Regions from separate parts of the Homo sapiens genome. Here region 2 is linked to region 1. A link means that fine-mapping ties the variant in region 1 to the expression of a gene that starts in the linked region. Tissue or cell type: sun-exposed skin. Region 1 holds a variant in brackets; the other region holds the start of a gene. All regions are shown on one strand. Distances are from middle to middle.

Region 1 (8,124 bases):
GTCCTGCCCACTGCAGCATCTCCAACAATGAGCTGGGGTGCTCATTACTTGTTTGTTGAATGAATAAATGACTGTAGGTAATAACTGCACTGTCTGAACCAGGATCCCAACAAATGAGGCTGTGACACATGAGATGCCCAGAGGACAGCTGAAATCAAAGCTGCCTTTAAATATCTGGGCTACATCATCACCTTCTGTGGGGTCAGCTTTTCTTCTGTCGGCTTAGCTTCATCATCTCGTGCCTCAATGCTAAGGGGTCCGCTTTGTCTCTCTCGGTCCCGGCCATCTCCAACCCAGGAAGGAATGTGGAAAATGGGGCTTGAGAAAGCAAGTCAGGGTGCTCCGGGCCATGTGGAATCAGGGTCTGAAAGAACACCAGAGCCACTCAGACAAACGTGTAGACCTGTTTGGCATCTTTATTTTCCTTCTAAGTACCAATTACTCATCCTGGGCCCAAATGGTGGCAGGTTTCCTTCCCCAAGGGGATAGATTGCAGAAACCAGAAGAGAGAGGTGGGTAGGGGGGAAGCTGAGAAGGGCAGGAGGGGAAGCCTGCACAGCACCTTCGCTGCTAACTAGGCGAGGGGGAGCATTGGAGAGCTGCTACCTCCAGGGCAGCTGCAGCCTCCTGCAAGGTTATCTGTGGCGGGCACAGGCTCAAAAGCAACGGGGCAATAAAAGTGAGTCATTGTCACCCAGCATGAGCCAACTCAGCCACTCGGGGCTCGGTGAAACATGTCCCCAGATGCAAAGTTACTCAAATTCTGGAATGAGTTTTGCCTGAATAAAGGACATTAAAATGTCCGTGCCCATAAAGACCGGCTGCTGTGCAGTGCCAGCATGGCTGATGGAGCCAGGGTGATCAGCTGACAAGCACCACCTGAAACGAGCTTCGGGCTGGAGACAGACAGTGCCATACCCTCTAGAGACATCTGTCCTCAGGCTCCTAACCCAGCTCTGTGGCTGCCTGGCTGTGTGCCCTTGGGCAGGGACATCACCTCTCTGATCTTCGCTCCTCTAAATGATCTCTAAGGGCCCTCATACACGGAAATTCCATGTAACAGCAACAAAGAGCCTGTGTGTTACTCTTCCCAGGGTTGGTGTTTGCATTTTAACAAAAAGTGTCTGCACTCTCCAGCAGCCTACTGATGAAGTGTACAGGTTCCTGAATCCAGTTGTTCAGGTTCAAATCCCGGTCCCGTCATTTATTAGCTCTGTGACTTCAGGCAGGTTGCTTAACCTCTTTGAGCCTCTGTTTCTTCACACCAAGGATAACACAACCAACAGAAAGGCAGGGAGTCTTATTCCAAATACGCAGGTATCCACCTTTTGATTGGGTTCCCCAGTGATTCCAGGCATCTTTTGGCTAAGGTTTCTGGAACCTTCTGTTTGGAGCAGAAATTGGAGCATCATACTGGCTACTGCCATTTGCTGTGCGGATAAGTTTGCAGAGGCCCTCAGCCATCATGCTCGCTCTCTCTCATTACACTGCATTTTCTCCTTTGTAACATCTACTATGATCCAGAATTACCTAGTAAATTTATTTACTCATTTATTATCCATATCTCTCCCCTGGATTTAAGCTCCATGAAATCACAGACCCCATCTAGCTCATGACTATCGATTCCCATAGCATAGCATCAGGCACACAGCAGGTGCTCAATACACCTGTGGCTAAACGAACAAATGAACGGATGAACGAATGAATTGCCCTTATCTAGATGCTTCTCACCTCAGCCTTCCCAAAGTTTCTCCGTATCCCTGCTTTGCAAAAAAGGAAACTGAACCCTCTGGGGTGGAAATGACCCAAAGTCACAGGGCAGTGGCTGGTACACAGGTCTGACTAACTCAAAACCCCACGTGTCACCCCCTTCCAGGAAGGTGTAGACAGAAGCACCAAAAAGGGGTTAGGGGCAGGAGCTTTGGGTCTGTCCAGCCCAAGTTCCATTCTAGCACTCCTTGGGCAAGTCACTTAACCTGAGGCTCGGTGTCCTCATCCACAACATGATGATGATACCATTAACATGTTCTTCATCAGAGTGAGAGTCTCAGGACGATTAAGCCTACTTTGCACAGCGCTGGGCACAGAGCAGGCCCTCAATAAATGGCAGCTGTTGTTCATTACTACTTCTACTGCAAGCTTTTCATTTTTTTTTTTTTTTTTAATTTTTAGTAGAGACAAGGTCTCACAATGTTGCCCAGGCTGGCCTCGAACTCCAGAGCTCAAGCGATCCTCCCGCTTACGCCTCCCAAAGCACTGGGATCACAGGCGTGCACCACCATGCCAGGCCTACTATGTCCTTTCCAAAAACCACACGGGGCTGGCCTCTTTGCCCAGCTCACCATTTTCTCTCTCATTTCACTCCCTCCTTCTCTCTGCCACCTCCACAGAGAAGCATCCCAGCACCCAAGCAAACCCCTTCCGCTCTGTTTCACTCCCCCCAGGCGGAGCCCACGCGTGGGGTCTTGTGCGCGTGGTCCCGCGGCAGCCCACAGCCCTCTGCTCTCCGTTTCAGGCTGTGCACCCCGGCTGTCCGCACTCCCGGGCCTCAGTCCTCCCCAGCCGCCCCCTCCACCCACCTGCATGCCTGTGGCACGAGTGGGCACACGTGTTCCCGTCGCATGTGGAGCCCGCACCTGTGGGAGGAGAGCCAGCCCGGGCTGCCGCCGCGGCGGCTGAATCAGGACAGCAAATCTCGCCACCCCCTCACTCCTTAATCCGTTGCAATCTGGCTTCCTCCCTACGCTGCCCGAAGCTGCCCTAGCCGGGGTCGCTGATGATTCCCACGCACCAAGTCCAGCATCTTCTCTACGGTCTGGTCCGGGTGTGTCGCTTGGGAACGTCTGATTTTCATGACCACCACCCCACCAGCACTCCCTCCGCTAACTCCCTCCTCCTCGGACCCTGCCTGCTCCCCTCGGTGCCTTCCCCACTCCATTGTGGGCCCTTCCTGTCCAGATTCTCTCACTCCCACACCTTTCCGCCCAAAGAGCATTTATGGAGCTCTTGCCCTGTGCAGAACGTTGCTGGCCTTGAAGGGGAGCAGGCGGACCCTGAAGGAGGCGGTGAGCTCCTACAGTGGGGGCTCAGACTGCAGCTTCGGTGGCCTGCAATCCGTTCCCAGCTCCTGGCCAGGTGCAGTGGCTCAGCCTATAATCTCAGCACTTTAGGAAGTTGAGGCAGGATTGCTTGAGCCCAAGAGTTCGACACCAACCTTTAAATTGTTTGCCTTTAAATTTCATTAAATTAAATTTCTTTTAAATACAAAAAATCCTGGGCTTAAGCAATCCAGGAGGCCAATTGGCCCTGCTAATTTCATTTAAATTTTTCGTTGAGATGGGTCTTGCTGCGAGACCCTAACCCTAACCTAACCCTAACCCTAACTATCTCTGCGAGACCCCATCTCTACAAAACATTAAAATGAAATTAGCCGGGCATGGTGACAGCCGTGGTCCTAACTACTTGGGAGGCTGAGGCAGGAGGATCACTTGAGCCCAGGAGTTTGATACGAGCCTGGGAACATAGCGAGACCCCTGTGTCTATGAAAAAATGTAAATGAAATTAGCACGGCATGGTGGCCTCGCCTGTAGTCCTGGCTTCTCAGGAGGCTGAGGTGGAAGGATGGTTTGAGCCCAGGAATTCAAGGCTGCAGTGAGCTATGGTCCCACCACTGCACTTCAGCCTGGGTGACAGAGTGAGATCCTGTCTCTAAAAATGAATTTTTTTTTTTTTTAATCCTAGTTCTGCTGCCTTGTTAGCTGTGTGTCTTTGGGCAGATAGCTTACCCTCGCTGGGTCTCAGTTACCCCTTGGAAAACGAGGATCACCGTGGGATTTGCGTGAATGCCTGTGAAGTGTTTAGCACTGTGGTTTGCATGACTGCCTCACCCTACTCTATTTTCTGCACAGCAGCCAGAATGATCTTGAAACATAAATTAGATCTCGGCAGCTGCTCGCCTAAAACCTCTTCAAAGGTTTCTCGTTGCCCTTAGCATAAAATCCAGGCTCTGCACGATGTTTACAAGTCCCTGGCGA[T/C]GCTCTGATCTCATGTTGGGTTACGCTTCCCTTGGTTCAGAAATCCCAGCCACCCTGGCTTTCTTTAATATTAAATTTCATTTTAAATAATTAAAATATAAAGAGTAAATTATTTAATGTACTAAATTAAATAATTTCATTTAAAATTTAATGTCTAATACCTAAATTAAATAATTTCCTTTAAAATGTAATGTCTAATACCTAAATAATTTCATTTAAAATTTAATATCGAATACATCAAGCTTGCTTCCACATCAGGACTAGTGCGGTGCCACCCCCTCCACTTGGAATGCAGAGCACTGCCTTCTGTCCATCAACCACGTGCCTCAGGTTTTCTCTCCTTCCCATCCTTCAGGTCTCAGCTTCAATGCCACCTCCTCAGGCCTTCCCTTACCACAAGGGAGGAGATACTGTCAATGTCCCACTCAGATCCTTGTCACCAGGCCAGTGGACCCACCCCCAACTGCTGTAGGTATCAGCTACTTAGGGCTCATACCTGAAACCTTCTCTAAAGGATTAACTACCTGGCTTCTCTGACTTTCCTTTCACTGAGAGCAGCCCCTCAAAAAATCACTGGCACAACAGTTGCCATCTCAGACTGCCTCTAGGGAACGGAACTTAAGATACATTTTTTTTCTTTATCTTGGTTTCTTTCAGAGCAATTATTATTATTATTATTATTATTATTGTTTTAAGACAGGGTCTTGCCAGGTGTGGTGGCTCACTCCTGTAATCCCAGCTCACTCCTGTAATCCCAGCACTTTGGGAGGTCAAAGTAGGAGGATCACTTGAAGTCAGGAGTTTGAGACCAGACTGGCCAACATGGTGAAACCCCATCTGTACTAAAAATACAAAAATTAGCCAGGCATGATGGCAGGTGCCTGTGATCCCAGCTACTCGGAAGGCTAGGGCAGGAGAATCTCTCAAACCCAGGAGGCAGAGGTTGCAGTGAGCCAAGATCGTGCCACTGCACTGCAGCCTAGGTGACAGACTGAGACTCTGTCTCAAAAAAGAAATAGGATCTCGCTATGTCACCCAGGCTCGAGTGCAGTGGCACAATCATGGCTCACTGCAGCCTCGAACCCCTGGGCTCAAGGGATTTTCCCACCTCAGGAGACTCATGACTACAGGTGCATGACACCACACCTGGCTAACATTTTATTTTATTTATTTATTTTTGACACAGAGTCTCGCTTACCCAGGCTGGAGTGCAGTGGCACAATCTCGGCTCACTGCAACCTCTGCCTCCTGGATTCAAGCAATCCTCCCACCTTAGCCTGCAGACACAGACCACCATGCCTGGCTTTTTTTTTTTTTTTTTTTTTGAGACGGAGTCTCGCTCTGTCACCCAGGCTAGAGTACAGCAATGCAATCTCAGCTCACTGCAACCTCCGCCTCCCGGGTTCAAGCAATTCTCCTGCCTCAGCCTCCCAAGTAGCTGGGACTACAGGCGCACGCCGCCAAGCCCGGCTAATTTTTTGTATTTTAGTAGAGGTGGGGTTTCACCATGTTGCCCAGGTTGGTCTTGAACTCCTGAGCTCAGGCAATCCGCCTGCCTCACCCTCCCAAAGTGCTAGGATTACAGGCATGAGCCACCACGCCCGGCCAATATTTTTTATTGTTAGCGAGGTCTATGTTGCCCAGGCTGGTCTCAAACTCCTGGCCTCAAGTAATCCTCCCACCTCCGCCTTCCAAAGTGCTGGGATTACAGGTGTGAGCCACTGCGCCCAGCCATTATTAATTTTGGAAAATATTTGGTACATTTCTTTCCTCTCTCTCCCTCACTACAGGGGAAGTTCCATGAGGGCAAGAATCACACCCGTTTAATCCATCACTTCACCCGCACACTTGGCGTGGGGGCCTGCACGTAGGAGATGCCGGAAGAGCTATTTCTTGAACTCAGGAAATGAGGCATCGTGTGTTTCCAGGGATTCCTCTCTAGTTTCCCCTCTTTTGACCTTCCTCTCAGTCCACTCTTAGATGATCCTCTTAGGATCTCAAACTCAGTGGGTCCCAGTGTTGATCCATCATCTACCCTCAGGAGAGGAGCTCTCCCCTGCCTTTTCTACCTCTGGCAGTAGCACCAGCCTTCTGGTGCCAAGGCTAGAACTCTGAGTGCCATGTCTGACTCATTCATCACAGCCATCCCCATAGCTAATCAGTGCCTGGACCTGTCTAAGACGTGTTGACATTGTCCCCTTCTCTCCTCTCCCCGAAGCTCCATGCTCACAGCCTTCAAGCCAGCCCAAGCCCCGGTTTCCTCATTCCCAAGTTGCTACAAGAACTCTTAGTAGGAACTCCCCACATCTAGCCCTCACCTCTCCTGCACCCATCTTGCACCAACCTGCTGGACTAACACTGCCAACACTCACCAGGAATCACCTCCCTCCCTCTGGTAAAAACCCTAAGAAGCCCACAGAGCCATGTCCCGTTGTCTTGCCTAACCTGGCATTCAAAGCCTCCAGTGATAAATCCTCGAGCCACCTCTTCCAACCTTGTCATTAATACTACAAAAGGTCAGGGAACACTTCTTTTAGGAGGTGACATTTCAGCCAGATCTGAACAAGGAAGAGCAACAATACAGAGCTGTTTTCAGATGTTAGGGTACTTCAGAACCCCCTGGGAATGTAAAAATATACGCAAATGCCTGTAGTGATGGAGATCGTTTGCTTGCTTGTTTCTTTCTTTGTTTTTAGCAATCCCTCCAGGACATTTTGTAGTCAGGCTTAGAAGCCACAGGTGGAGGGACAGACACACAGATGGACGAACAAAGAGACATAAATTAGTAAGTTATAACCTAACCATAAATCCCAGGCCTGAAAGCACAAAAGACCCTGCCATTCACTTTTTCTGGGAGAATCAGAAAGATGTCCAGGAGGAGAGGGTCTTTAAGCATCGTCTGAAGGGGTGAGCAGGGTTTGCAAAGCAGAAGAAAAATGGTCCTCATTAACATAGTGGAGAGTTTAAAAAAAAAAAGTGTACCCAGTGCAAAAGCTGGGAAAAAAAAAAAAGAATGGAGAAACTCACAGGCAGAGAGGGCAGCTCCTGTGAGAGGTCCCGGGCTGCGGCCAGTAGGTGACCACCAACGGGAGGCAGTGACTATATCAGGATGCCGAGGGGCCCCAGGGAGATGCGGCTGAGGTTGGAGTTGGGGCAGGTGAAGGGGAAGGACTTTGTGGGGTATCTGAGGAAGATGGAGTTTCTCCTGAGGCCACCAGGAGGCGCCAGACGTCAAGCGGGGCGGGGGGCGGGGACGGGCTCGGTAACTTTCCTCTGCTGAAAACAGCCCTGAGCAGGGTTAGCAAGGATTAGCCGTGGCAATAAAGGGCTTATAAGGAAATTAAAAGGTCTAATGAGGGCCATAAGGATGATTTATACCCTTTCTGTAGCATGCCTCTTCCTTGTACTAGAATTCATGTATGCCTTTGTCCTGTCTCCCTAATGAATTGTGGGGTACTCATAGAACTAAAACCCGTGTAATGATTAGCTGAAGCAGGGTTTCTCAACCTTGGAACTGTTGACATTTGGGGCTGGTAATTCTGTGTTGTGGGAGGTTGTTCTGTGCATGTTAGGGTGTTTAGCAGCGTCCTTGGTTTCTACTCACAAGATGCCAATGCACCTCCATCTCAACTAGTGACAAGCAAAAATGTCTCCTGACATTGCCAGCTGACCCGTGGGAGCAAAATCACCCTCAGTGGCAAACCATTGGGTTAAAGGGGTTCTGCAGGCTCTAGCAGGATCCAAATCTGGGCTCTGCCACTTCCCAAGTAGGTGATCTTGGGCAGACTACGTCACTCCTCTATGCCTCCATTTTCTCATGTATCAAGAAGGGATTTTTAAAAAGTATTGACATCAGCATCAGTGTAAGAATGAAACACAGTGATCCAGCCAGGCACAGTGATGCACGCCTGTAATCCCAGCCCTTTGGGAGGCTGAGGCAGGAGGACTGTGTGAGCCCAGGAGTTTTAGACCAGCCTGAGCTACATAGCAAGACCCTATCTCTACAGAAAACAACAACAAAAAAAATTAGCCAAGTGTGGTGGTGCACCTGTAATCCCAGCTACACAGGAGACTGAGGCGGGAGGATCGC
Region 2 (6,541 bases), 70 kb before region 1:
TCCCTGCAAGGTGAAGAGTGAGAGGCAGGGCCGCGGTGAGCAAGGCGACCAGAAGAAAGGGATTACCAACTTGGCTTCCTGCTCTAGGAGCCAGGCATGGAACTCAGCAGCAGGATAGGCTGCTGGGATCACGGACTCCATTCCGAGTCCCCGACGCCATCCACATCCCTCGATCCATCTCTAACTCTATCCACAACTCCAATTCGAGCTAATTCTCCATCCCCCAGCCCCTTCTCGCATCCAGCTTCCTCATCCCCTGTCTCCAGGCACTTCCCCATCCCCATCTCTGTCCATATCCCCCACCGCATTCCCCAAGTTCGCCGCGGGCCACAGACCCTAAGCGCCGCGCGTGTTCTGTACCCCACCAAGCTCCTAGGTGCACAGAATAAACCCTCCATCCAACCCCTCCCACCTGGGATAGAGAGGACCAAGTTATCAACCCCGCCCCCTGCTGGCGCGGAGCGAACTACAGACCCCGCAGGGCGTGCGGAGGCGGCACCCAGACCCCGCGTCCCAGCTTGAGAGCTCAGCTAGTTGGCTGACCCCGCCCCCTACGAGCCCGTCGTGTGCACCACACACTTTGCTCTACGCCCAGCCCCAACTACAGACCCGGCTCCTCTCAGTCAGAGTACACCCCAAGTGCTTGGGAGTGAGGACGCTGCCTGGTGGGCCCAGGCTCCGCTGTGCCTGGGGAACTTGGGGCTCGCCCCACCTCGAGCCAAGGGGCCGTGGAGAGTCCTTCACCCCTACACGCGCGCGTGCACACACACGTGCACACACACACGCACACACACATGTTCACACACACACACCCTCTCTCACGCGCGCCGTGTGCAATGCTGAATTCTGGAGAGTAGGCGCGTCCCCCCGCGGGCCAGCGCGTAGGAGCTGGCAAAGAACGTGCGTAGGGGGAAAGGTAGGCTCCCAAGAAGCTCCCAGACGGACGTGGACTGTACAGCCCCTCCCTAGCCTTTCTACTGCGGGCGCTGTTGCCAAGTCCTAGGTGCACGTGGGCAGTGGGCCGCACACGCTCATAGGCACGCGCGCTTTTCTGCGCACTTCCTCAGACTGCTGTAGCGGTGCCCACGGCCAGCCGGAGTCCTCACATGTCCTCAGGTGGTGCACACGCATGAACTGCGGCAGGTGCACAGCCCTGCGTACCTGCAAATACCAGCACGGTCGTGCACGCGTGCCCTGACGCGCGCCTCTCGGGACGGACGCTGCTGGAGCCGGGGGAAGTTGAGGCGAACTCCAAGAGGCCTCGACGTTCCTGGGTAAGCGCCGCGGAGCGCGGAGCCGCAGCGCCCCCTGGTGCCCCTCCTGCACTTCGCCGCTGGGCTCCCTCCCGCTTTCCCTCTCCCTCTCTAGCCTGATCCCTCTCCCGCTCTCCCTCCGGTCGAGTCTCCCTCCTCCCCGGCCCAAGGAGCCCTGATCTCCCTCTGGGACGTACCTGTAGCCCGAGAAGGTCGAGGATGCAGTGGGGCGCGCTGCGCGCACGAGCATCTCGGCCGCCTCAGCAGCCACCGGGTTTAGCGGGTTCCCGCATGCTGCGGCCCCAGCGCGCTCCCCTGGCTGTCCCGCGCTGTCCGCATCGCCCCCACGGGGGGCGGCTATCCCAGCCGGAGGCTCTGCAGCAGGGCTCTAACGGGGCGGAGGAGAGAAGGAGAGGCAGGGTCAGCCCACCAACGAGGGGAGGGAGGGTTGAGGGGAAGGCTGCAGTCTGCAGTGCTCACAAGCCCCCCTATGCGCCCAGGGGGGCTAGACAAGAGGGGGGAAGCTGAAGCCCGATGCCCACGACGCCCCCAGTGCGGATCCTCAGCCCCTGTGGCTGATAGCGGGAGCTCCACTCCAGGGTGCACAGGAGAATGGGAGCCCCAGGTTGGCCACCCACGAGAAGCTAACTGGGCACCTCCACCCGCACCCCCTACCACCTCCCCAGCGCCGGCTGCTGGGAGTTGTGCGACCGGGAGCTGCTGAGCGAGGGAGGTAGGGAGAGAAAGAGGAGGTAACGAGGGTGGGGGGGCGCTGGCTGAGTTTGTGACGAGCCAGCAGTAGGAGAGGGGGAGGGAAGGACGCGGGCTCCCGCGGTCCCGGTTCCCCGAGGGAGGTGGATCTTTCCCACGCAGCGACCCTCTTGTGATCCTGCCGCTTCCTCCCTCTTCAGGCCTCCCACCTCCCCCCTTCCCAAGGGGGCCTCCCAGGCCCGGCGTCCCGCGCTAGCACTCACCGCAGCCTCTCTCCACATAGTTCTCAGCAGTGGCCGCTCCTGGTCATCTCCAGGGCTGATGGCTGCGGCCGCGATTCTCAGCGCTCACCCGGTCCCATGATCCGGCCAAGCCCTAGGAGCTCCCCTCCAAGATCCCTAGCTCCGCTTCCTGCCCCACTCCGGACGGCAACTGCCCGGTCCTCTGAGCGCGCCGGAGCACCCTCTCCGCAACCCAGCTCCGGGCTGGTGTGTTTGAGGGCGAGTGTGTGTGTGAGTGTGGGAGCGCGCTCGCGTGTGGCCGGGGATCCCCGCGGTCCCCGGCCGAGAGAGGCGCGGGCGGGGAAAGGCAGCTCCCTCCGGGCCCTTCGCTGCTGGGCCAGCTCCGCGCCGGGCGTTCGGCTCCCCACTTCCCAGCGGGAGTCCGGTGAGCGCCTGGACACCCTGGTTCACAGCACTGGCAAAGCCGGGTTCCCGGGGCGTCTTTCTGCTGCGGTCGCCTCCGAGGAAGAGGAGAAGGAAGGTAGCGGCGCCCTCCACACCAACTTAGGGACTTGTTCTCAGCCGGCGAGACGCAGTAGCCCCCGCTCAAGCCCAAGAGGCTTCGAGCTCCGGCGGGCGAAAGCGTCTCCTGCCCGCAGCCTCTCTCCTAGGTGGGTCGAGACAGACCCCGCAGTCCCTCGGCGGCGACGCGGAGCGCGGCCACCCGTTCCGAGAGCGCACGGCGGCAAATAAGGCCAGGATAGGTGGCTGGCTGGCGACGGGGGCGCCTGCGGCGGCGCGCGCTGCTGTCCGTGGTGTTGGAACCACGCTCTCCGCCCGCTCCCGGGCGTCTGGTGCGGCTGAAGAATCAATTATTCAGATCTCTGCTACCGCTTCCTCCTCCCCCAGTGCCTCGCGCTGGGTACAGTTATCCCCCTCCACGCACAGGCGCGCCGACACACACACACACACACACACACACACACACACACACACAGAGTCTGCTCCAATGCTTCTCCCTGTGCCTCGCCACCCCCGTACGGGAACCCACTCCTCTGATCTCAGGGAGCCAGAATCCTAAAAGCAAAGACATCTGCATTTCCCACATGCTTCCTTCTAAGTTCTACCAAACAGAAGCCTCCCTGAGGCTGCCACTTCTAAGCTACCAGAAGAGGTGAGCCAGAGAACATGGGACGGCCCGGGTGTGTGAGGGCTTGGTTGACTTGAATTCTAGCGACTGGGCATGAAATACATGGTCAAGGGAGGAGCTCTGCCCCTTTTATATTCACCTGTATCTCCAACGCCTGTCTGCCTTTCAGGCCTTGGAAGGAAAGGGGTCTTAAATTCTAAGAGGTTTTGCAATGACTGTTCCAACCCTGCCTCCTCCACTTAACCTAATGTCACCTGCTGCGGTCTAAATGTGTGTGTTCCCACCCCCAAATTCATAGGATAAAATCCTAACTCCCAAGGTGATGGTATTAGGAGGTGGGGACTTTAGGAGGTGACTTCATGGCTTCATGAGAGTAAAATGGGATTTGTGGTCTTATAAAAGAGATGCCAGAGAGTCAGCTAGGTCCTTCCACCAAGTGAGACTTAATCAAGAAGGCATCGGCCTATGAACAGGAACTAGGCCCTCCCCAAATACTGAGTCTGCTGCTGCTTCATCTTGGACCTCCCAGCCTCAAGAAGTGAGAGAAATAAACTTCTGCTGTTGATGATGTTTTGCTATGGCACCTGGATCAAACTAAAATATCACTTTTGGACATTATATTACTTCCCTTTATTGATCACTAATCTGGAAATGGGGGGCAGTAAAAACATCTACTTCTCAGGATTATTTTGAAAAGAAAAGGAAGTAGCCTTAATAAAGGGGTCAACAAGGTCTGGCACATAGTAGATGCTCAATCAACATCATGCACCTTGAAGTAGCCTGGAAGCAGGGGAACTTCTTCCAAGAATGTGGATGTGGCTGCTGAAATGGAGACAGGAGAGGGGCACAGTGTGTGGAGACAAATGGATTCATTATTGAGCTGGTTGTTCTATGCTGGGTTTCCTGGGTTTTTGTTTTTGTTTTTTTTTTAATCCAAAAGACAGAGAAAGCGTGAGGGAAATGCTGGAAAGTAAATTAAAATGGGGGATTGTATAATATAAGGCAGGGAACAGGAAAATGTTTCCTTTCTTGAGTCTATGGCTGGGCTGAACTGATTAGGCCACTCCTTGGCACCCATGCAAGACTCTGGCTTGGGGTCTAAAGGGGAAGTTAGGCCATTTTATTTAAATGAGTTATAAATTATAGACAATAAAATGCATATCTCTCAAGGGTTTCATTTGTGAAGGTTTTTTGGTGTTTTTTTATTTTTTTGTTTGTTTGTTTTGTTTTGTTTTGTTTTTTTGACAGGGTCTCACTCTTGCCCTGGCTGGAGTGCAGTGGTGTGGTCGTAGCTCACTATTAACTTGAACTCCTAGGCTCAAGTGATCCTTCTGCCTCAGCTTCCCAAGTAGTTAGGACTTGTGGTGGTTAGCACATGCCACCACATCTGGCAAATTTTTTATTTTTTGTAGCCATTGGGTGTTGCTATGTTGTCCATGCTGGTCTCAAACTCTTGTCTTTACGAAATCCTCTGGCCTTGGCCTCCCAAAGGCTGAAATTACAGGTGTGAGCCACTGCACCCAGCCAGTTTGTTACTTTTGAGATTGTGTGTATCCACATAGACCGTCACGTAAAATGAGGTACAGAGTATTTTCATCACCACCAGGAAGTTTTCTTGTGTCCCTTTGTTGTCAATCCCACTCCCCCCATTCAGTGTAAACTACAATTTTGATTTCTAATACCATGTATTAGTTTTGCCCTTTTCTGAACTTCATATAAGTGGAATTTTACACTATGTATTCTTTGGTGACTGGCTTTTTTCACTTACCCTGATGTCTAGAAGATTCCTCTGTGTTGTTGCATGTATCAACAGCTTTTTTATTTTTTATTGTTGAGCAGCTAGCTCTCTATTGCATGGATAAGCCACACTTTGTGTATCCAGTCTCCTGCAATGGATATGTGGGTTTTATCTATGGGACTTTTTAAAATACAGATGTGGCTGGGTGCAGTGGCTCACGCCTGTACTCCCAGAACTTTGGGAGGCTAAGGCAGGAGGATCACTTGAGCCCAGGAGTTTGAAACCAGCCTGGGCAACATGATGAGAGCCCAGGAATTTGAAACCAGCCGGGGCAACATGATGACAACCCAAGTGTTCACACTGCTGCACTCCAGCCTGAGTGACAGAGTGAGACTTTGTCCCAAAAAAAATAAATAAAGAAAATAAAACACAGATGCCTATGCCCACTCTAGATCTACTCCATCAGGATCTCCAGGTGTGGGGCCAAGCACGGACAGTTATTTTAGATCCATAGGGGATTCTGATGATGCCTCTGCACTTGCTATTCTCATAAATTGATGCTGACCCTGAAATTGGATTTGTCTTTCTTGAAAAATACTGGTATTCAGGGTTTTAAGTTATTCATGATCAGACTTATAGAAAGATAAATCAAACTGATACGGCCTCTTTTGAATAGAGAAAGAAGGCAGCCCTTCATTGGAAGGGACACTGTGCCTCTAAACATAGGCACAGGAGGCTGGAGTTGCACTGGGGTGGACATGTCACCAGGGTGGAGCACATCGTGTGTCAGGCACCTGGAACTTCACCATACATGCAGAGACTGTGACAGCGTGTATAAGATCATGACAGCCTTACTCCATCTATGCTGCCAAGCTTAATTCTCAATGCAGCTTAGGATGCTAAGCAGAATTTTGCTGCTCAAAGAGTTTCAGATGATAAGAAAAACTTCTTCATAGCAGCTATATCAACTGTGATGGTTAATACTGAGTATCAACTTGATTGGATTGAAGGATGCAAAGTATTGTTCCTGGGTGTGTCTGTGAGGGCGTTGCCAAAGGAGATTAACATTCGAGTCAGTGGACTGGCAGACCCACCCTCAATCTGGGTAGGCACCGTCTAATCAGCTGCCAGCACAGCCAGAATAAAAGCAGGCAGAATATGGAAAGACTAGACTGGTTCAGTTTTCTGGCCTCCATCTTTCCCCTGGGGCTGAATGCTTCCTGCCCTGGAACATCGGACTCCAAGTTCTTCAGCTTTGGGACTCGGACTGGCTTCCTTGCTTCTCAGCTTGAAGTCTATTGTGAAACCTCACCTTGTGATCATGTGAGTCAATATTCCTTAATAAACTCCCCTTTAGTCTGGGCACGGTGGCTCATGCCTGTAATCCCAGCACTTTGGGAGGCCGAGACGGGTGGATCACCTGAGGTCAGGAGTTCAAGACCAGCCTGACCAACATGGTGAAACCCCA

What was found. PIP is the estimated chance that this variant, and not a neighbour inherited with it, causes the effect.
Region 2: GRIN2A starts here. The variant in region 1 is fine-mapped to the expression of GRIN2A in sun-exposed skin (GTEx, PIP above 0.99).

What each region holds. Positions count from the first base shown.
Region 1 is chr16:10,249,735-10,257,858 of GRCh38, forward strand. It overlaps LOC105371078 (a long non-coding RNA gene), which reads right to left and starts at 2,909. Exons shown (of 3, transcript XR_001752077.1): 1 at 2,580-2,909. The variant T/C (reference allele first, on the strand shown) is at 4,035.
Region 2 is chr16:10,180,427-10,186,967 of GRCh38, forward strand. GRIN2A (glutamate ionotropic receptor NMDA type subunit 2A) reads right to left here and starts at 2,002. Exons shown (of 13, transcript NM_001134407.3): 1 at 1,451-2,002; 2 at 1-3. RefSeq lists silencers at 1,090-1,199, 1,210-1,269.